3 linked regions of the Homo sapiens genome follow. The protein of the gene in region 2 interacts with the protein of the main gene of each other region in a biochemical or structural test. Each region holds a gene or a part of one and is shown on either strand. Other genes may lie near its edges.

Region 1 (7,447 bases), on a different chromosome or scaffold from region 2:
ACAATATAAGTTCTATTGCTGTTTTCAGTTATCCACGAAAAGTGTTTATTCAGCACCAGCTATGCGTATGAATCACTTAGTGTTAATATAAAGTTACAATTTCATCTTTATCTCCCTATTAGAGAATAAAAGTTGACAATCAAATACTACAGACAGAAGGAAGGGAACTAGGCCAGGTGCTGTGGCTCATGCCTGTAATCCCAGCACTTTGGGAGGCCGAGGCATGTGGATCACTTGAGCCCAGACCAGCCTGGGCAACATGGCAATATCTTGTCTCAACACAAAAATTAGCTGGTGTGGTGGCGTATGCCTGTAGTCCTAGCTGCTCAGGAGGCTGAGGTGGGAGGACTGCTTGACCCTGTCTCGAGGAAAAAAAAAAAAAAAGAAGGAGGGGGAACTATTGAGGACTTTGTACCAAGAATATTAGCACACATCACTTCATTTATTTTTCACAACAACCCCGCAAAGTAGATATTATCACTATCCCTATTTTACAGACAATAAATGGAGGTGTTCTTAAGTTACGTACACTTGGCACAGGGTCCCATAGCTAGCAGATAGGAAGCATCTGAATAGAAGAGTAAATCTCTCATATACTGCTGGTGGGAATGTAAAATGATGCAGCCACTTTGGAAGACTATCTGGCAGTTCCTCAAAAAGTGAAACCATAGAGTTACTATATGACCCAGTAATTCTACCAAGACAAATGAAAATGTGTCCACACAACAACTTGTACATGAATGTTCATAACAGCACTATTCATAAATGCCAAAAAGTGGAAATAACTCAAGTGTCCATCAACTGATGAATGAATAAGCAAAACACGGTATATCTATCTACACAATGGAATTTTATCTGGCAAGAAAAGAAAATTAAGTACCAATACATGCTACACATGCATGGACCTCAAAAATGTTAAGTAAAGTAAGCCAGACACAAAATGCTACATATTGTATGATTCTCTTTATATGACAAGTCCAGAACATGCAAATCTGACAGAAAGATTAGTGACTGCAGAACAATTAATGATTGCTGAGGGCTGGGACGAGAAGGTAAGCAACTGCTAATGGATATGGGTTTTTTTTTCCCCGGCGGGAGGTTATGATGAAATGTTCTGAAATTGATTGTGGTGATGGTTACACAACTCTGAGGATATACTAAAAACCACTGAGTTGTACACTTTAAAACAGGTGGATTATATGTCAATTAAGCTGTATATATATATATATATATATATATATATATATGAAAAAAAGAGTGAACCGCCCTTTACCGAATAATGTTGCCTAACAAAACTATAGTTTTCCTTATAGAGTTGGCTCTCAAAATCAAACCATGAGGGTAGCCAGGTTGAATGGATTCTATATATTATCTAGACTCTTCTAATTAGGGAGTTGATTATTGAATTGGATATCTTTGAATATCTGGTTGTTTGAATTGGATAAAGAAAACCTCAAAGTGCCCAGAAAACATTAGGAACAAGAAAGTGTGTGAAGAAATGAAGACATGAAAATTCTCCCTCATATTCCCAATGCTGGCTATCCAAGGTTCTTTGGATTTTGGCCCCAACATGTGAAATCCGTTATATCATTTTCTCTAGATTTAGAAGGCAGTGCATAATAAAGTGGCCATCAGTTCCTGCGGATTTGCAACACAAGACTATTTCTATGTGACTATTAGCAATAGTTGGCTCTATCAGGAATTCAGGAACGAGTCTTTTGGAATGGCTAGAACTGGAACATATATGCACTCTTTCAAACTTTGTGCTGACTTCCTCCTCAATGTTGGATGCATTTAGACAGGAAGGAAGATAACCTTTCGAATCCTGAATGGTCTGCCATTGGGCAGTCATAAACATACCACTTCTTTCCTTCTAGCACCCTGGGTAAGTTCCTTTTATGACCAAGCTGTGGCATTTAGACATTTCCTTATGTTTCTTCCAGGTACTTAAGGACAAATTTAGCTCCTGGCTTTTCCTGATTTGGGTGGGTTTGGGTGCCTCTAGAAAGTACTTCCTCTACACTTGATTGAGCTCTTTTATTTGAGCTGCTCTCGATTCACCCGCCCCACCCCCACTTCTTTTTTCTTTTGCGTTGCTTTTTAGTTCTGTTTAATTACCTGCTTCTGGCAATGTGGAGCTTTCCCATAACTGGATTAGCAGCACTATAATAGCAGTAACCCTTTCATTACCAGAGTAATTTTCTTTACTTGTTTTGAACTTCAGCATTTACAGGCAGCTGCTATTAAGTTAAAAGGTAAAAAGACATGTGACTTTTTCCTGCTTTTACAAGTCCAGAATACTTCCAGTGAGGGTTACAGGGCTTTGAAGCCATTTTCTCCACTTTAAAAAAAGGAAAGGTAAGAGCTGAAGTAGGCCTCTCCTCCATTTAAAACACAAATCCAGTTAGAGACCAGCCTGACCAACATGAAGAAACCCCATCTCTACTAAAAATACAAAATTAGCCAGGTGTGGTGGTGCATGCCTGTAATCCCAGCTACTTGGGAGGCTGAGGCAGGAGAATTGCTCGAACCCAGGAGGCGGAGGTTGCGATGAGCCAAGATCACGCCACTGCACTCCAGCCTGGGCAACAAGAGTGGACTCCGTCTCAAAAAACAAACAAACAAACAAACAAAAACCACGCAAATCCAGCAACCATACTTCCTTTTAGAATCACATTTTCAGGATTCTGCCATTTATCCAAGAATAATAAATAAATAAAGTTAGAATTTAGTGTTACGTTCATTTTGACTTCTTTGTAATCTGTTTCTGGCCTTAGGTTTTCTTGACTCAGTCAGATGTAAAGTTGTTAAAACAGGGAGGGGATCAAGATAAGGCCTTGCTATCTTGGTCCATTTCCTATTCCAGTCATTATTCATGTGACCTCTGTAATTTTTTTACTTACCAGGCTAGATTAAGAGACTCATGAACTGCATCACTGGGATGTGACAGGATTTATGACTATGGTGAAGTAGTCTGAGGCACCTGGATGAAAGGTGGTTATAGTGAGTTATGTACACAATTCCCACACATTTTAAACACTTGATTCCTACAGAGCTATCAAACTAATGGAAGGCAAGTTACTCAGAGTTTGGTTGACTGATACCTCCAGGGATTGCATTTTCTAAATACAGAGCTTGCTTTCACAATTTCAGCAGGATACAAGAGTGTTCAGAATTGGGGGTTTACCATTCAAAGGGCAGAGGCCAGAGACTTGAATTTACAAGGAGGGTCCTCAACACAGACATCGAGATTACAGTACATTAATTTCTCTTGCACATGAAGAAGTTGAGGCTTCACAATTTCAGCATGACCCAGTATAGTTGCAACATCTTACCCATCACTGGGTGTGTATCTTCTGTGTACACTGGCCCTTTCAACATCTAAGGCCAGGCTAGGTGCTCATAGCAACTGGCTCCCCAGGAACTAACGAAAGAGAAAGCAAGAAACAGTGGAGGGGTTTTGGTGATGGTGGAAGGCAGGGGAGATAGAAGTGGGGGTTGCAGAAGGTCGTGGTGAGGCAGAGTGGCAGACAAATGGGGAATGAGAAGTCTTGCCAAGCCCAGAAGACTATCGTTGTGTAAACACACAATATGCTTCAGGCTATGTATTCTGGGCAACAGTTCCTGCCCTAAAAGGTGTGGACATTTAAATTAGGGTAGGATTGCGCATTCTGTGATAGAGACTGGCACAGAGACAAAGTGGAACTCCTCTACGTTGGGGAGGGGAAAACATACATTAGCCTGTTTTGAACCTTAGACCAAGACAAGACAAACACACAAACACCATTTAATTTCATACTGCAATAAAATTCTTTGTACCAAACCATGGGATCAAAATTGTTACAGATACTCAGTGAACAGTTCCAATGCATTCATTCATCCAGTCACTTACTCCACAGGGGTTTGAGTGCCTGCACTTGGTGCTGGGCACGGCTGAGCCATCCCAGACGCCAAGGAGTTTACAGTCTAGTCCAGTCAGTGACGAGGTTAAAACGAATTCTCGCATCATTGCTACTGCGAATGCACCGGGACAGGATCAGCCCTTCAAATTCTCCCACGTGGTCCCTGCAGGTGAGTGTGGGTGTGAGCGCTTGCGGCCCGTGGTGTTTGGGAGTGAGAGAGCACGTGTGTCAGAATGGCGCCTGTCACAGTGCGCGTCCAGGTGTCTCTGCAGTACGCCTCTCCATAGCCACCCGAGCCGGGCTGTATGGGCTTGGCTAGGCTTATGTCTCCCGCCCACGCACCGGAGGCGGTGCGGAAAGCACTCCGCGGGCGCGATTGTGAGTGAGCGCGGGCGCGCGCGGGAGGGGCGCGCCGCGCTGGCTGGGCCGCGCGCAGGCGCAGAGTGCGGAAGTCGGGCCGCGGCCGCCGCAGAGCGCCGGGGGCGGGAGGAGCAAACGCAGGAGGCCATGGCCGCCGACGCCGGCGCCGGCTGCTAAGGGGCTCGGCCCGCGAGCGCCTGCTGCCGCGGACGATGGTGACCGTACGGGCCGGGCCGCTGCCGCTGCCGCTGCCTCCGCCTCCCCAGAAGCAACATCCGAGGCTCGGCGCAGAAGAGCCGCCGCTGTGAGCCGTGCCGTACCGGCCCCCGCCGCCGCCCGAGGAGAACGGGAGGGCGGGCGAGAGAGCCGGGGAGTTGCGGAGCCCGCCCGCCGGCAGCGCCGCTCCCCAGGGAGGGAGTCCGCAGCCTGAGGTGACCACGCCGCCCGCCCGGCCCCTTCCCATCCCCGCGCCCCCCGGCCGCTTCCCACGGCCTCCCTCCCCTCCCCCATCGCGTCGCAGGCTCCTTCCTCTTCTCCCTGTTCGCCCCTTTCCTTTTATCTCGCTTCACCTCCCTCTTCTCCCTAGCATTGGAGGAGTCCACATCCCCTCTTCAGCCGCAGCACCCCTCCCTCCCATCCTCTAGCTCTTCCCGCGGTGGTCGCCTCCCTCCGACCCTGCTCTCCCCTCCTGGGCCCCGCGCAAAGCCCCCTCTGTTCCAGCTCCCGGGCCTCGGCTGCCTCCCCGCCCTCCCATCCCTTCCTCTTCCCAGGGCCTGGAGCGCTCCCTTACATTCCTGAGATGCCCTTCCTCGGGGCTGTCCCCCTTTGCCTCCCCAGCATCCCATTTCTAGGCCTTTTTCAAGACCCTTCCAGAGCGGCCCCTTTCCAGCTCCCTTTCTCGTTTCCATTTCCAACTTTGCCTCTTTTGCCTCTTTGTTCACTTTGCTTCCAAGCTCCCCTCCCTCTTTCCCTTCGTCTTACCCTGCTTTGATCTACGCAGCCCCAAACTCAAGCTCCCCGCTTTCAGGTGGTGCGAGGTTGTTTGGGGGTGCGGAAGGGCCTGCCAGTCCATTTTTCGAGGGGGGCCCATTGCTCTGCATCCCGTCCGTCAGTCCCTTTTATAGTAAGAGGGCTCCTCATCCCTTCCTTTTTGTCCCCGTGGTTTCCTCTGTCTTGCCATCCCTTCTGTCTTCTCCCTCCAATACTGCTTTCCCCACCCAAGGACCCTCAGACCCGTGAACCCCCTTTCTGGAATGAGTTCCCTTTCTGTTCGGGGATGCTGAACTTCGCCCGCGTTTTTCTTCGCGAGCCTTTTGGTACGTGGCGTGGCGCGACAGAGTCAGCACCCTTGGCGAGATAGGAGGGGAGCTCTCGAGCCTCTTTCCTGGAAGAGTTTTTGCTGAACGTAATCTCTTAGCCCCGCGGCGGCGGCGGCCCGGTTGCTGCTGCTACTGCTGCTGCGCTGCCTGCTTGCCGCGAGCTGGGTTGGGGTTACTGTAGTTCAAACGCATCTGAGATCTGCAGGCGTTGTGGGAGGAGGTGCGGGGAGAGAGGAAGGGGCCTGTGCAGTGAGCAGGCATCAAAGATTAGTGGATGGCCTTGCGTCGCAGTCTGCAGTAAAGAGGAAACTAGTCTGAAAGGGAAGGAGAGGACTGTGTGTCTTTTTATTTTTTAAAATACGGAGTGTGCAGTTTTACTGAATCTTGAATCATGCCCAAAAGAATGAGCTGTCGGTGCTGCAGTCGTGACCCAGGCTGAGCGGCCGATGGCAGAGGTAGCAGTTTTATTTCCTCTCTCTGTTCCTTAAGTTGAAAGATGGCCTTTGTATTCAGAGTAGACTCCCTGTCTTTGCGGTTTGGGAGATGATGAGAAACCACAGAATTGCTAGTAGTTTATGTGGAGATCAGGTACATACAAAGTTAGCTAGCAAGGAGTGGGAGTGGGGAGGACCAGCTATATTTAAAACATGTGCCATTGCTTATGTAAGAAATGCGTTCTCTTTCCTGGTATCTCAGTTCTGGGCTTTTACTTAGAATTTTAGGCTCTAGCTTTGTGCTCTTAACATTTTCAGTGAGGCCTACCATCCTAACCGATGGACAGCCCGAAAATTTACTTTTCTTAAGATCAGTTTTAGTTGATGGTAGAATTTTTTTTTTTAACTGGTTGGGAGAAAGAAAGGAGATAATGGTGAATGATGATTTTTGTTTTTCTTTTTTAGGGGGAAGGTGTAGAAGTATTGTACTGAATAGTTTTAAGTTGGGTCACGTGTCATTCTTGTTTTTTCTTTGTCTTTTTAAAAAAAAGTTTAGGAGGTGTATTTTTGAAGAACTCAAATAAGAGAAATAAAAAATCACATTTTTCATTTCTCTTATTTGACATAGTTCTTCAGAGATTAGCTGTGACTGTAAAAACCTACATTTTTCTTATTCAGGACGATTTGTTTGGTTTCTTCATATTCAAAACTAAAATCCCGTATTTTCAGGAAAGTGTAGAATGAAGCCCCCTGTGTTTTCTAACCCACAAATTTGAATGGTAAACTGTACAGCATTATACTTCTACAAGACATTACTGTTTTCATAATTACGGATTGCTGCTTCTAAGCCTGAGAAGGTCATTTAATGAACTCATTGAGGTCTCCTTTTTGGTTAGCATTTGTTGCACCTCTTGTGGTTTTTGGAAAGAAATGCCTTTTTTTTTTTTGGTTTGTTTTTAGCTGTTTTACTGTGTAAAACATCTTTGAGTCACATTTAGTTTATGTTACCTGCAGACACATCATGTTGGATATTACTTTCCCAGTTCTTTTCAAAGTTCAAGGAGGACATTTTAAAATCTTGCATGGAAGATAAAACAGTATAGGAAGTTTATGTATTTGGCTTTGGGTGTGTTAAACCTTTCGGTTTTTTCTGCTTTCAGCTCTCCTGCTTATTTTCTAGGATTATTTGGTATTATTTTGTTTTCAAGAGAATATTGAGCTCCCCTGTACTTTAGGATATGCTGATTAGCCCTGTTTGACAATAAATCTGGAACAGGATAAATTAGGCAACATTATAAAGGTATTCTCTAGATCAGGAGAGAAGGCTCCATTTTACTTCGTGTTTGTATGATATAGTGATTTGGCAGGTGTGAGTAATTGCAAGTACTTGCAAAGAAGATGAATATTTTAAAGTTTTGTTTTGATGTTGGTT
Region 2 (7,160 bases):
TCAGGACTTTGGAGTGGGACCTGGGCCGTGCTGGGTCTTGGGAGTTGGGAACGAGGAGGGCTGGCTGGGGCTGCTCTGTCTTGGGAGCTGGGAATGAGGAGGGCTGGCTGGGGCTGCCTCTGTCAAGGGGCTGGCAGGCAAGAGGACGTGTTGATGTTTATTTGCTTGGCTGTGGAGTATCCTGAAGGGTGGATGGGGGAGTGGGTGATCGGAACAGTATGTTGACTTATGGGTACAGGAGGGCCTTGAAATGGGAAGAGACTAGAAGCTCAGACCTTCTGGACCCACGGGGGGAGTTGGGAGGCTCCTGTGGTGTTGATGGGAGAAGTGATGACATTTTGCGTTAGAGAAGATAATGAGAGTGGGAAGGCTGTGGTGAACAAGGATTGCAAGAGTCAGGGACCCCAGAACAAGAAGCAGGGTTGGGGGTGGTGCTGAGGCCACACATTTGGGAGCACGCGTTGGGTGCCCTGGCTGAGCTCTGCACTCCAGGCCCTGGGTGTGTGGGGTGAGCAGCCAAGCCCTGGCCATTGACATCCTCAGGTTGGGAGCAGACACTAAACAGGCTGCTGGTGGTGGTTCTCTGAGGAGGAATAAACCGGTTAGAGAGGCCAAGTCTGTAGATCTCTTGCAGGTGGAGACTGAAAGGAGGTGGAATGTGTGGCTGTCTACAGGTGTATGAGTTGGTTCTCATGCTGCTATAAAGATGTACCCGAGACTCAGTAATTTATAAAGAAAAGGGGTTTAATGGACTCACAGTTCCGTGTGGCCAGGGAGGCCTCAGGAAACTTACAATCATGGCGGAAGGGGAAGAGGCATGTCTCACATGGCAGCAGGCTAGAGAGAGCGGGCAAGAGCAGGGAACACTGCCTTATAAACCATCAGATCTCCTGAGAACTCGCTTTCACTGGAACGGCTTGGGGAAACTGCTCCCATGATCCAGTCACCTCCCACAAGGTCCCTCCCTCAACATGGGGGATTATGGGGATTACAAGTCAATATAAGATTTGGGTGGGGACATAGCCAAAGCATATCAGCAAGGAAACTGGGTAGAGTAGACTTCCGGTTTGTGGGAACTGGGAGGTCAGGATGGAGATCACTGGTCACTGTCCGTTATCGATGGCCACTGATGTCCACAGACGTTATTAAATCGTGTGGCCATGGCTGGGCGCGGGGACTCACGCCTGTAATCCCAGCACTTTGGGAGGCCGAGGTGGGCAGATTACCTGAGGTCAGGAGTTCGAGACCAGCCTGACCAACATGGTGAAACCCCGTCTCTACTAAAAATACAAAAAAAATTTGCTTGGCATGGTGGCAGGCACCTGTAATCCCAGCTACTTGAGTGGCTGAGGCAGGAGAATCACTTGAACCCAGGAGGCAGAGGTTGCAGTGAGCGGAGATCACACCACTGCACTCCAACCTGGGCAACGAACAGTGAGATTCTATCTCAAAAAAAAAAAAAAAATAAGGTTTGAGTTGGAGCTAGTCTGATGCAGCAGGGAGCCCTGTTTTCATCACCACCCCTCTCCCCAGTCTCAGGTGTGGCTGAGGGGCCTTGGGGTCCCTGATCCAGCCTCCTCTCTTGCATGATGATCACCACCCCTCTCCCCAGTCTCGGGTGTGGCTGAGGGGCTTTGGGGTCCCTGATCCAGCCTCCTCTCTTGCATGATGATCACCACCCCTCTCCCCAGTCTCGGGTGTGGCTGAGGGGCCTTGGGGTCCCTGATCCAGCCTCCTCTCTTGCATGATGATCACCACCCCTCTCCCCAGTCTCGGGTGTGGCTGAGGGGCCTTGGGGTCCCTGATCCAGCCTCCTCTCTTGCATGGTGCCTCGCGCCCCATGCTCGGCCTTCAGTGCTGTCTTGAACGTCCCAATGGAGCCACCAGAGTGACTTTCCTAACAGAAGATATGATCTGCCTTGAGGCTTGGACCCCAAACCCCTGTGGGGCCCGGGTTACCGTGGCTCCTGCCTGTGATTCCAGCACTTCCGGAGGCTGAGGCCTGAGAATCAGTTGAGGCCAGGAGTTTGAGACCACCTTGGGCAACATAGTGAGATCCCAGCTCTACAAAAAAAAAAAAATTAGCTAGGCGTGGTGGCATGCGTCTGTAGTCTCAGCTACTCAGGAGGCTGAGGTGGGAGGATTGCTTGAGCCGAGGTGGTCAAGGCCACAGTGACTCCAGCCTGGGCGACAGAGCAAGACCCTGTCTCACGAAAAATAAGTAAATAAACTCTTATGCCCTGGCCCTGCCTCCCTGGCCAGTCTTATCCCTGCCCTCACTGTGCTTGGGCCCTTGCACACTGCACTTTCTCAGGTGTGGCCTGTTCACCTGTGGCCCCTTCTACCAGGAAGACAGCTGCTCTGCCCAGTGAGTGCCTTGGAGTCTCCAGAGTCCTCGTCCCTCCAGCCGCAGAGGCTCCCCCGTTCTGCGGCTCGTTTTGCTTGTGGCTAGTGGTAAATGCTGGGCAGCGGGCTTCCGGGTGCGGTGAAGGGGCCGGCGGTGGTGCCTGCCCACTTCTATGGTGTGGATTCTCCATCAGTGCGGGGTCCTTGAGCTGAGTTGGAAGGTGCGAGTAGCTGCCCTCAGGAGCTGGTCTGAGGCTGTGGCCCGAATACCCCCTCAAGCCCTGTAAATGTATCCCTGCGTGAGTTTTTGGAGGACAGGAACGAGGCTTTGGGTTTCTCCTCGTCTTTGTACCTGAGCTGTACGTCGTGTCAATGAAGGTGGTGGCGGGACAGACGGGAAGAGAGAAGCCGCAGGGCCTCTGGGTGTCTGGGCGGGTGGCAAGCGAGGGTGACCTGTGAGCTGTGACTCTGGGTGACCGGGCCCTGAATGAATGGCGGGCTGCAGAGGCGGGAGTGGGGCTGCGCCAGGGGAGAGAGCTGTGGCCGGCGCTGCTTCTCGTCGTCAGTGTAGACGTTGCTTTTAACAGATGAGCAGCACCAGCAGTAAGAGGGCTCCGACCACGGCAACCCAGAGGCTGAAGCAGGACTACCTTCGCATTAAGAAAGACCCGGTGCCTTACATCTGTGCCGAGCCCCTCCCTTCGAATATTCTCGAGTGGTAAGGCTCCGCGCCACTGATCGCCCTGCGCTGACTGTCGCTGCCACGCAGGCCTCTGCCGGCCCCTGCTGGGCGAGCCTGGTGCCCCAGTCATGGCATTGGCAAGGTGCTCCTGCACCCTCCCCCGGGGTGAGTGGGGTGCCCAGGGGCCTGTGGACACTCTCTGGTCTTTTCCCAATGGACGCATGCCGGGGACATCACAGAGCCATGCTTGACTCAGGCTGGGGCTGGAGAGAATCTCCGGTGTGGGGCCCTTGAGGGGGGCGGGGTCCAGGTTGACTCAGGTTGGGGCTGGAGAGAGTCTCTGGTGTGGGGTCCTTAGGGGAGGGGTCCAGGTATGCAGGGTTCACAGCTGTTGCTGGTGTGCACTCTAGGCACTTAGAGGAGAAACTGCCTTTCTAGACTCTGCTCTTTGCTTCTGGATATGGGAATTAGCCTGTTTTGGCTTGGAGTATTTGACAGGACTAGGGTCCGACACTCCTGTCCCTGGCACTGGCTTGGGCCAGGTGCCCCGACCCTCAGGCTGACAACGAGAGGACCTGTGCCTCATAAGCATTCACCTCATGGTGACTCTCCCCCTTGCTGAAGTATAGAGTGTGAGAGTGCATACTGCTCTGTCGAAACACTGCCATTACAGGTCTGCTAGTAATTTGGTAAGAAATAAAGTGTGAGAGGCCGGGCATGGTGGCTCACACCTGTAATCCCAGCACTTTGGGAGGCTCAGGCGGGCGGATCACCTGAGGTCAGGAGTTCGAGACCAGCCTGGTCAACATGGTGAAACCCTGTCTCTACTAAAAATACAAATATTAGCTGGGCATGATGGCGCACACCTGTAGTCCCAGCTACTCGGGAAGCCGAGGCAGGAGAATCGCTTGAACCCGGGAGGCGGAGCTTGCAGTGAGCTGAGATCACACCACTGCACTCCAACCTGGGCAACAAGAGCGAAACTCTGTCTCAAAATAAAATAAAATAAAATAAAATGTAAGGATGTTTTATATTTTGATCTTTTAAAAAAAAATTACTTATTATTATTTTTTGAGACAGTCTTGCACTGTCACCCAGACTGGAGTGCAGTGGCACAATCTCGGCTCACTGCAAGCTCTGCCTGCCGGGTTCATGCCATTCTCTGGCCTCAGTTTCCCAAGTAGCTGGGACTACAGGCGCCTGCCACCATGCCCGGCTAATTTTTTGTTTTTGTATTTTTAGTAGAGACGGGGTTTCACCGTGTTAGCCAGGATGGTCTTGATCTCCTGACCTCGTGATCCGCCCGCCTTGGCCTCCCAGAATGCTGGGATTACAGGCGTGAGCCACCACGCCCGGCCTTATTTATTTTTTTGAGACAGAGTCTTGCTCTGTCGCCCAGGCTGGAGTGCAATGGCGTGATCTCGGCTCACTGTGACCTCCGCCTCCCTGGTTCAAGCAATTCTCCTGCCTTAGAGATGGGGTTTCACCATATTGGTCAGGCTGGTCTCGAACTCCTTATCTCAGGTGATCTGCCTGCCTCAGCCTCCCAAAGTGCTGGGATTACAGGCTTGAGCCACCATGCCTGGCCTAATTTTTTTTAATTCCAGAGAAAAGATATTTCAGTGAGTTGAAAGGAAATGTGTTTCGGCTTGGTCAGGGGTCCACCTTCTCTGGCTCACAGAGGAGGCCCAGCCCAGGCAGGCGGAGGATACCCAGGGTGAGGCGGAGCCCCTTGGCCACCAGAGTGCTCTCTGCCCCCAGTGTTGAAAATCACATGTGGCCCCAGGACATCGCTGGCAGGTGAGAGGGACAAGTTCCACGGTAGCCGCCTCCTCGCTGGTTGCGAGGACGTCTTCATTGTGTGGGGAAATCCCTCCCCACAAATCTGTGGGTCAGGCGTCCCCAAGTCCCGGTGCAGGTTCGATGATTCACAAAGAATACTCACCATTAAAATTACGGAGAGAAGTCCAGGCACAGTGGCTCATGCCTGTAATCCCAGCACTTTGGGAGGCCGAGGTGGGTGGATCACAAGGTCAGGAGATTGAGACCAGCCTGGCCAACATGGTGGAACCCTGTCTCTACTGAAAATACAGAAATTAGCCCGGTATGGTGGCGCACGCCTGTAATCTCAGCTACTTGCTACTTGGGAGGGTGAGGCAGGAGAATCGCTTGAACCCGGGAAGCGGAGGTTGCAGTGAGCTGAGATCGCACCACTGTACTCCAGCCTGGCGACAGAGTGAGACTCCACCACACACACACACACACACACACACACACACACACACACACACACAATGGAGAGAAAACACACACACACACACACACACACACACGAGAGAAAACTGCAGTCAGCCAGCGGAAGAGGCATGTGGGGCAAAGTCTCTGTGCTCCATTCCCAGCAGCAGGCTTGGGTTTGGACGGCATGTGTGGAATGTTGAGCAGAGAAACTCATTGGAAACTAAAACATTAGGGGAAGGCCCAGGGACTTTATGGGGCTGGTCCTAGGCACCCTCTGCCTGGCACCTGCCAAAATACCAAAATACCAGACTTCCAGGAGAGCAGGGGCTCAGCGTAGCCCATGTTGCCTGTACTGTTGAGGCATTAAGGACAGCAGCGTCAGTGCGAGAGCCCCTGGCAGGTCCTCGGCAGGTGTCTCTCCCTTCCCCGAGAGAAGACTGCTTTCCCAGAAAAGGCCTGTGGGGTGCGCTATGGGCCACGTGGATCCCATCTTCTCTCAGCCGCCCCAAGGCTGCTGGGCTCTGTCTCAGGAAGAGGATGACTTCTTCATTTCTTCCCAGTTTTCGCAGGTTGGGCACAGTAACAACGTAAGGCCACATTCCTGGGTGCATCGCGTGCTGAGCTCAGAGCCACTGGGTTCCTGGGTCAATGACACATGATAATGGCATTTTTTGAGTAAAACATACCAGCTGGCTCTGCTGATACATCATCCCATTAGTATACATTACTATACGTCATCCCATTAGTAGTTTCTTTTGAGTACTATTTCTGTCACTCAGGCTGGAGTGCAGCGGTGTGACCTCGGCTCACTGCAACCTCCGTCTTCCAGGTTCAAGCGATTCTCCTGGCTCAGCCTCCTGAGTAGCTGGGATTACAGGTGTGTGCCACCATGGCTGGCTAATTTTTGTATTTTTAATAGAGACAGGGTTTCACCGTGTTGCCCAGGCTGGTGTTGAACTCCTGACCTCAGGCAATCCACCTGCCTCAGCCTCCCAAAGTGCTGGGATTACAGGTGTGAGCCACCGCACCTGGCCTAATTTTTGTATTTTTAGTAGAGACGGAGTTTCGCCATGTTGACCAGGCTGGTCTCGAATTCCTGACTTCAGGTGATCTACCCACCTTGGCCTCCCAGAGTGCTGGGATCACGGGCATGAGCCACCGAGCCCAGCCCCCATTAGTTTTAAAGTGATGGCACACATGTCCTGGGGCAGAGCAAGGGGAAAGATGATGGCCGGTGTTGGCCGGTGTTGGCAGTTGAAGCCATGTCTGGTTTCTGGCATTTCTAGCTGGTTTTACTTTCTTCTCTGTGCTCTTCTGTTTCGTTTGGGAATCTGTAAAGCCCAGACACTTCTTTACGTAAAGCAGAAGCCTTATTTATTTGTGTGGAGGAGTGTTTAGTCGATTTGCTGCTGCCCCTGGTCTGAGGGTGAGCTCTGTGTGGGGACTGTGGCTTTGGACACAATCACGGCAGTTCCTGTTCCTTCTGCTCCAGGACAGCTGCTCAAGTCACTTATGGTTTTTCCAGGAGCACGAGAAAGGGCTGGGGGTACCGAGCCGGCCCCGCATCACTAGCTGTGTTCTGTTTAGCCTGCATGTGTGATATCAAAAAACACATTATATATAAGTACATTTAAGAATATACATTTCAAAGTACATCGTTTTTTCTTTGGAGATAGGGTCTCACTCTGTTGCCCAAATGGGATGTGGTGGCACAATCATAGCTCACTGCAGCCTTAAACTCCTGGGCTCAAGTGATCCTCCCGCCTCAGCCTCCTGAGTAGGCGGGCTGCAGGCATGCACTACCACACCCGGCTAACTTTTTTTTTTTAAATAAAGGTGGGGTCTTGCTATGTTGCCTAGGCTGGTGTCAAGCTCCTGGGCTCAAGCGATCTTC
Region 3 (7,000 bases), on a different chromosome or scaffold from region 2:
ATCAATGCCTACTACCACCACAAAAAAGAACTCAGTGAAAATTCTTCTCAAAGGAATTATGTGTTTCCTGATGGAACTACTCTCCTGCCTCCATGTAGTAGTTTTACTGAAATAACCAAATGGTGATTGAAACCTGTCTAGATTCAACCACCAATTTACAGAACAGAAGACCAAGCCAAATGTTAGGAGAAACCACAAAGATAAAGTCAGCAAAATCCAGTCTGCATAAAGTTGTACAGGACAAATGACTAGGTTTCTCAAACTTTTTCGAGTAGTGATTAAAAGGAAATTAAGGATAGGATGCAGTGGCTCACACCTGTAATCCCAGCACTTTGGGAGGCTGAGGTGGGCAGATCACTTGAGGTCAGGAGTTCGAGACCAGCCTGACCAAAATGGTGAAACCCCATCTGTACTAAATACAAAAATTAGATGTGGTGGTGGGCGCCTGTAATCTCAGTTACTCGGGAGGCTGAGGTTGCAGTAAGCCGAGATCATGCCACTGCACTCCAACCCGGGCGACAGAGTGAGACCTGTCTCAAAAAATAAAAATAAGGCCAGGTGCAGTGGCTCACACCTGTAATTCTGACACTTTGGGAGGCTGAGGTGGGCGGATCACCTGAGGTTGGGAGTTCGAGACCAGCCTGACCAACATGGAGAAACCCCGTCTCTACTAAAAATAAAAAATTAATCAGGAGTGGTGGCCCATGCCTGTAATCCCAGCTAATTGGGAGGCTGAGGTGGGACAATCGCTTGAACTTGGGAGATGGAGGTTGCGGTGAACCAAGATCGCGCCACTGCACTCCAGCCTGGGCAACAAGAGTGAAACTCCGTCTCAAAAAAGAAATAAATAAAAATAAAAAAAGGAAATTAAGGAAACTTAACTTTTGGTACCTAACTCATAGCCTCCAGAAACCCATTCATGTACTGTAGATTAGTCAACCATCTTGTAGGGAATTGTTTATAGAGGGCACAATCACATTTTAAGAGTAAATAAATAACATCCTGCTAAATCTTTTGAGGAAATGAGCAATTCCATATAGATTTGTGAGAATTATTTAGAAAAAAGATTTTAGGTTGAATAATTGGCTTATTTAATAAAGATTTACCCTTTTATTCTATTCTTAAAACTTGTTTTTGGCCTTAGGGTATTCTTGTGACTTACGGAAAATTTGATAGTAATTATCAAATTATTGTTCTAAACTCTGAAGCTCATTTTTGGTATAACCTAGATAACAATTGCATATTTGTATGGACAGGTATTTACTGATTTCTTTTACAAATAAAACATTGTGCTTGCTTGTAAGGAATAATCAAGGAAATTAACATGTGGTCATTTCCTTGAAAAGAATGGATAATTCTATAGCAGCCATGGTCACAAATAATACAAGGTGAAGAATTAGTCAACTAAGGAATGGGAATAGGATAACAGGGATAGACTATGGACTAGCCAAGCAATATTTTTGGTAATAGATACTCTTTCCAGTTTGGGGAGCAGAAGAAAAGAAAAAAAAGAGGCCCGGAATATCTTTTTCAAAAGAAACTTTGTTGCCCTTTCTTTATTCCTAATAAATTTGCTTATTAATGTATTCACTTTGGGGCCTAATTTGGCTTTTACTGACAAATAGCTGCCAACAAAGAGCTGTATGTATTATCTTGTACACCTATATTGAAAAAAAAAATTCTGCATTATGAAATATTTACTCCAGAAGTTTTAATTTTTGTTTGCTGTTTCTTTTTAAGAATAATTTTTTTTTTTTTTAGAGATGGGTCTTGCTATGTTGCTTGCTGGAGTGCAGTGGCTAGTCACAGATGCAGTCATAGCATACTGCAGCTTTGAACTGGGCTCACGCCATCCTCCTGCCTCACTCTCCCAAGTAGCTGGGACTACAGACATGTGCCACTGTAGCCCAGTTCAATTCTTTCTTTTTTTTTTTTTTTTGAGGTGGAGTCTTATGCTCTGGCCCAGGCTGGAGTGCAGTGGGGTGATCTCGGCTCACTGCAACCTCCGCCTCCTGGGTTCAAGCGATTCTCCTGTCTCAGCCTCCCAAGTAGCTGGGATTACAGGCACACACCACCACGCCTGGCTAATTTTTGTATTTTTAGTAGAGATGGGGTTTCACTATATTGGCCAGGCTGGCGTCGAACTCCTAACATCAAATGATCCTCCCACCTCAGCCTCCCAAAGTGCTGGGATTACAGGCATGAGCCACTGTGCCTCGCCAAGAATAAATACTCTTGATTTTTATTTCCTTCTAGCTATCTTTTGTAGCTTTTGTTCTATTTTTTTTAAATCATCTTTGGTTTAAACTGAAATATACTGAGATGCAGATTAGAAAAAGCTTTTTTTCTTGGTGCAGGGCAGAAGAAAGGCTTGTAAACTTCACCAAATGCTGCTTATGCTTGTGGGATCGTTTAATGTTCATCATTTGGTCAGTCTCATCCCCATAGCAGTCAGAATATTTCAAGTCACTTTATACCATGAAGTCCATGAATGGGAGGCCTTATTAAATAAGATGATTATGTGAAAATCTAATGGCATATTGATGCTCTGAAATATGTTATGTAAATCTTGGCTTTTAATTTTTTACATTTTTATTACAGATTCTGAAGAATATTTCTGTGTAAAAAGAATTTTCTCAGGGGGAGATCAAAGCTTTTCACATTACTCTAGTCCCCAGGTAATAATATAGTCATGTAAATAATTAAATAGCTCCAATAATTTTGACAAATTTTAAAAACCCATTATTAATGTTCTTTATATGTTACAAAGTAATTGCCTTAGTTTTTTTCCCCTTAAGTCTACAGAATAAGTTTTTTCTGATCTATTTGATAGGTTTTTGTTTCAGGTGTTCAGGAGAGATTTAATTCTGTTTAAAGAACAAATATATGGTGGGAATTTCTTGGTTTTTGAGTTATATATAATATCTCTTCCCTCTGACTAATCTTATTTGAAAATTTAGAACTGTGGGCCACCAGATGACTTCAGATGTCCCAATCCGACAAAGCAGATCTGGACAGTGAATGAAGCTCTAATTCAGAAATGGCTGAGCTATCCTTCTGGAAGGTTTCCTGTGGAGATAGCCAAGTAAGAAAAGCATTTTGGGCCAGGCACAGTGGCTCATGCCTGTAATCCCAGCACCAGGCAGATTGCCTGAGCCCAGGAATTGGAGACCAGCCTGGGCAACATGGCAAAACCCTGTCTCTACAAAAAAATACAATTAGCTGGGCGTGGTGGTGCACACCTGTGGTCTCAGCTACTTGGGAGGCTGAGGTGGGAGGATCAGCTGAGCCCAGGAGGTCGAGGCTGCAGTGAGCTGAGATTAACACCATTGCACTGTAGCCTGGGCAACAAAGTGAGAACTTGTCTCCAAAAAAAAATATCCATGGATATTTTTAAAGATCTTAATTAAATATGTATAAGTTGTAGTTCTTTCATGTGCATAGAGATATGTTAAATGATAACATAAAATATTTAATGTAGCCATTTTAGGATTGGCCTTGAAATGTGTTCCTTCTGGTTTTATAATGGTCACTATCTTAACTTTTATACTTTGTGGAAGACTTGAGTATTATTTCTTTCTTGAATATTTTGTTAACTTGCCTAGTAGCACTTAAGATGTTATTTGTTTTTTGTTGGTATTTGGGATGATGGGTTGTATTTGAAAAGCTGTTTTGTTTCTCTAGCTTGTTTTCCAAAACTATAATTTTTCTGAAAATCCCAAAGGCATCCCAGATTAGGCTCACTGCCAATATAAAATGTTTAAAATTTTTTTAAATTAAAAAACTTTTTACATGAACATACACACTTAATTTTTAAAATACCATGTTTTAAAGCAGATAACATTGGATAAATGGATGAAAGTAATATTTAAGAAAGTCTAGAATAAACAGTAATACCTTCATCAAGTATTATTTTATCAGTCTTTAGCAATTTATGTAATTCTGATTCATCTAATTGGGTGTTAGAGGAGTGCTCTGTAGCATTAAACATTAGATTAATTATTCATTTTAATTCTTTTTTAAGAAAGGGTAAACAATTAAATTTCTGATTCTATGATTAAAAAAACTTTTTTAAATTTTTTAGTGAGATAGATGGAACGTTTTCTTCCTCTGGTTGCCTAAATGGAAGTTTTTTAGCTGTTAGGTAAGTGGCAATTCTTTAATATGCTGAAATTTTCAAATTTATTGTCTTAAATAGTATATCAAATTAAAAAATGAAATAATTTTAAATTTTTATTCTATTTTTTTTTTTCTTTTCTGTTTTTTAGCAATGATGATCACTATAGAACAGGTACCAGATTTTCAGGGGTTGATATGAATGCTGCTAGGCTTTTATTCCACAAACTTATACAACCTGATCATCCGCAGATATCTCAGCAGGTCTGTTTTTAAAGTATTATGTTTACAGTATTATCTGTTGATTTTGTTTTCTTTTGTTTTATACGTTTATAGCCTAATTTACTTTGCAGTTTCACAGACTCTTACGATGTGCTTTTAAAATAAGATTTTATTTTAAAGCATTTGTAATTTAGCTGTCAAAGATCTATAAATCTTTTCAGATGTTTGAAGCAGACCCTGAATTACTTAACATTACCACGTTGCTTAAGTTTGTGTATGGTTATAGAGGTAGAGAGTTTAAATTGAGACTTGTACACGTGATTTTTTAAATTCTCCAAGTAATGCTTAGGCATTAATTTTCATTGTGCTCCAAAGTATATTCATTGTAAGACATTGTCTTTCTTTTTTCTTCTTCACCATTTCATATTTGCTGTAGTGCAAAATTTTCCTTTTCTTTCTTTTCTTCCTGCCTTCCTTTTTTTTTTTTTTCTTTGAAAGTGTATTCATTTTAAATGAAGTAGGTTTTACTTTTTGTCAAAATATAGGTGGCAGCTAGTTTGGAAAAGAATCTTATTCCTAAACTGACTAGCTCCTTACCTGATGTTGAAGCATTGAGGTTTTATCTTACTCTACCAGAATGTCCCCTGATGAGTGATTCCAACAATTTCACAACAATAGCAATTCCCTTTGGTACAGCTCTTGTGAACCTAGAAAAGGCACCACTGAAAGTACTTGGTAAGAATTCTAATATTTTTTCTTTTGAAACCTTTTCTCTTTAAATGAAAATGCTTCATAAGTTCTTTTGCCATTTGCAGTTCTGCTGCCCTGCTTATTTGACACTGTCTTAGGCAAAAATGAACCTGTTTTTCCTTTTCTTGCTTTTGTCTAGTCTTTTGATTCTAGTTGTTGGAGTTGTTGAAAGAAAAACATGTTAGATATAGAAGTTCAATTAAACATAACAGCAGAGACAGTATTAGGAAAGTTAAAAACTGTCACCCGTATTCCTTTCCCTCATCGCCTTTAGTATAATCTTGCTATTAAAGAAGTAAAGGAGGAGGAACAATTAAAACTGAACAAACATGGGCTTTAAATCTTCTTGGAACCCTGATATAAGCCCTTTATCTTGTGTTTCCTTCACTTGCTAATTTCATGATATTTGATTTTATTTTTCTGCCTATAGACTAGATTTTATTGCTCATCTGATCTTGCACTTCTATCTCTTACTGTTCTGGTTTTTTGGCATAAAGTTTTCTCACTTTAATTTTTCTAATTGTCTAGATTTTATCTCTATTTCCTGGCCTTTATACTTTTTTTGCTACATTTAACCCAGTGCTTTTCTTTCTAATGGTATTTGTTAGATATGTGGAGCTGAGATATATAGAAGTAATAATGTCAGTACAAGAACTTTAAGGCTGAGGGTAAATGGAGGAAGCAACAAGCAAGGGGTAGAATATGGGAATCTGAGGGAAAAAGAGTCAAGCAGGGACTGAAAAGAGTATTGCTTTCCTGTTGTCAGAAGTTTTTGTATTCTTTCTGCCTGCTTCATAGGATTGAAGTGTTTGTACTTAGTAACTACAAATAGTGAATGTGGGGAAGGACCCATATGTTACACTTTACATTGTTCAGCTTCTGTATTTGATCTTCAGGAGTACCTTGCATTTTAAAGGTAGTGGTTCACAATATTTCAACCATATATTAAATTGAAAGATAAAAGTTAGAAAGATCCTTTAGTATTAGAGCAATACAATTTAAAGGATGTTTTGTTTAAAAATTGAAACTGTAATTTTCAAAACATTTTTTAAAAACTGGTTTTAATATTAGGTATAGTGGTGAGTTTTTTATATAACTTAGGAAACCAAGAATATAAATTCAACAAGACTTTCACACTTTATTTTTGCTTTTGAGAGCTTTTCGGACAATATTGTTTAACTTGGTCGGGGGGAGGTTTATAAACCTTACAAATGTTACATAAGATATTGTGTTATATGCATCTTTCTGGGGTTTTCTCAGGTTTAACAACTACTGTTTCAGAAAAAAAGTCAGTATGATTTTGAAAATTGTGATTTTTTAAAAAATTCATTTTATTTGCATGTTCACTTTTTAATAACAGAAAACTGGTGGTCAGTACTTGAACCTCCACTATTCCTCAAGATAGTAGAACTTTTTAAGGAAGTTGTGGTACATCTTTTGAAACTCTACAAGATCGGTATTCCCCCTTCTGAAAGAAGAATTTTCAACAGTTTTCTTCATACTGCATTAAAGGTTTTAGAAATACTACATAGGGTATGTCCAATCATTCCTTTATTTTCCTCTTTCCCCATTCCTATTAACAGATTGATACTGTTCATTTTAACATTAATCTATTAAAGATTTAGATTGGCAAAAACAATGCATATTATAGAAATTTGGAAAAGTTATCTATACTTTCTCTTAAAAGAAGTAATAAACCTGTCCTTTGGAGCTCTGGTCTTACCTGACTTTGTTAGGCATGTATAGATAACTTATCCATAGTTGGGCAGAACAATAACATACTAATGAGTTAGAATTCTCCTTATATTTCCTTATGAAGAATATAATTTGTTAGTTTGCATTATATGGTTTTTGTTAGCTGTAAGTGGTTATCTTGTGAAAGAGATTGGGTCCTAGTTGTAATTATGAACAT

The links.
Region 1: the proteins of UBE2J2 (region 2) and RNF145 form a complex in vitro, tested with the Homo sapiens proteins (one study listed by BioGRID).
Region 3: the proteins of UBE2J2 (region 2) and HERC4 form a complex in vitro, tested with the Homo sapiens proteins (one study listed by BioGRID).

The regions. Positions count from the first base shown.
Region 1 is NC_000005.10:159,206,477-159,213,923, reverse strand, and holds the start of RNF145 (RING finger protein 145), read left to right. Parts: upstream 1-4,370; 5' UTR 4,371-4,693; intron 4,694-4,785; exon of another isoform or gene 4,786-6,027; coding exon of another isoform or gene 6,028-6,039; intron 6,040-6,097; exon of another isoform or gene 6,098-6,124; coding exon of another isoform or gene 6,125-6,169; intron 6,170-6,275; exon of another isoform or gene 6,276-6,446; coding exon of another isoform or gene 6,447-6,449; intron 6,450-7,447. UniProt on the Homo sapiens protein: E3 ubiquitin ligase that catalyzes the direct transfer of ubiquitin from E2 ubiquitin-conjugating enzyme to a specific substrate.
Region 2 is NC_000001.11:1,263,766-1,270,925, reverse strand, and holds part of UBE2J2 (ubiquitin-conjugating enzyme E2 J2), read left to right. Parts: intron 1-2,933; coding exon 2,934-3,064; exon of another isoform or gene 3,065-3,156; coding exon of another isoform or gene 3,157-3,193; intron 3,194-4,635; coding exon of another isoform or gene 4,636-4,828; intron 4,829-5,335; exon of another isoform or gene 5,336-6,095; coding exon of another isoform or gene 6,096-6,143; intron 6,144-7,160. UniProt on the Homo sapiens protein: Catalyzes the covalent attachment of ubiquitin to other proteins. Seems to function in the selective degradation of misfolded membrane proteins from the endoplasmic reticulum (ERAD).
Region 3 is NC_000010.11:67,988,284-67,995,283, reverse strand, and holds part of HERC4 (probable E3 ubiquitin-protein ligase HERC4), read left to right. Parts: intron 1-2,601; coding exon 2,602-2,678; intron 2,679-2,960; coding exon 2,961-3,085; intron 3,086-4,084; coding exon 4,085-4,144; intron 4,145-4,268; coding exon 4,269-4,380; intron 4,381-4,883; coding exon 4,884-5,073; intron 5,074-6,448; coding exon 6,449-6,621; intron 6,622-7,000. UniProt on the Homo sapiens protein: Probable E3 ubiquitin-protein ligase involved in either protein trafficking or in the distribution of cellular structures. Required for spermatozoon maturation and fertility, and for the removal of the cytoplasmic droplet of the spermatozoon.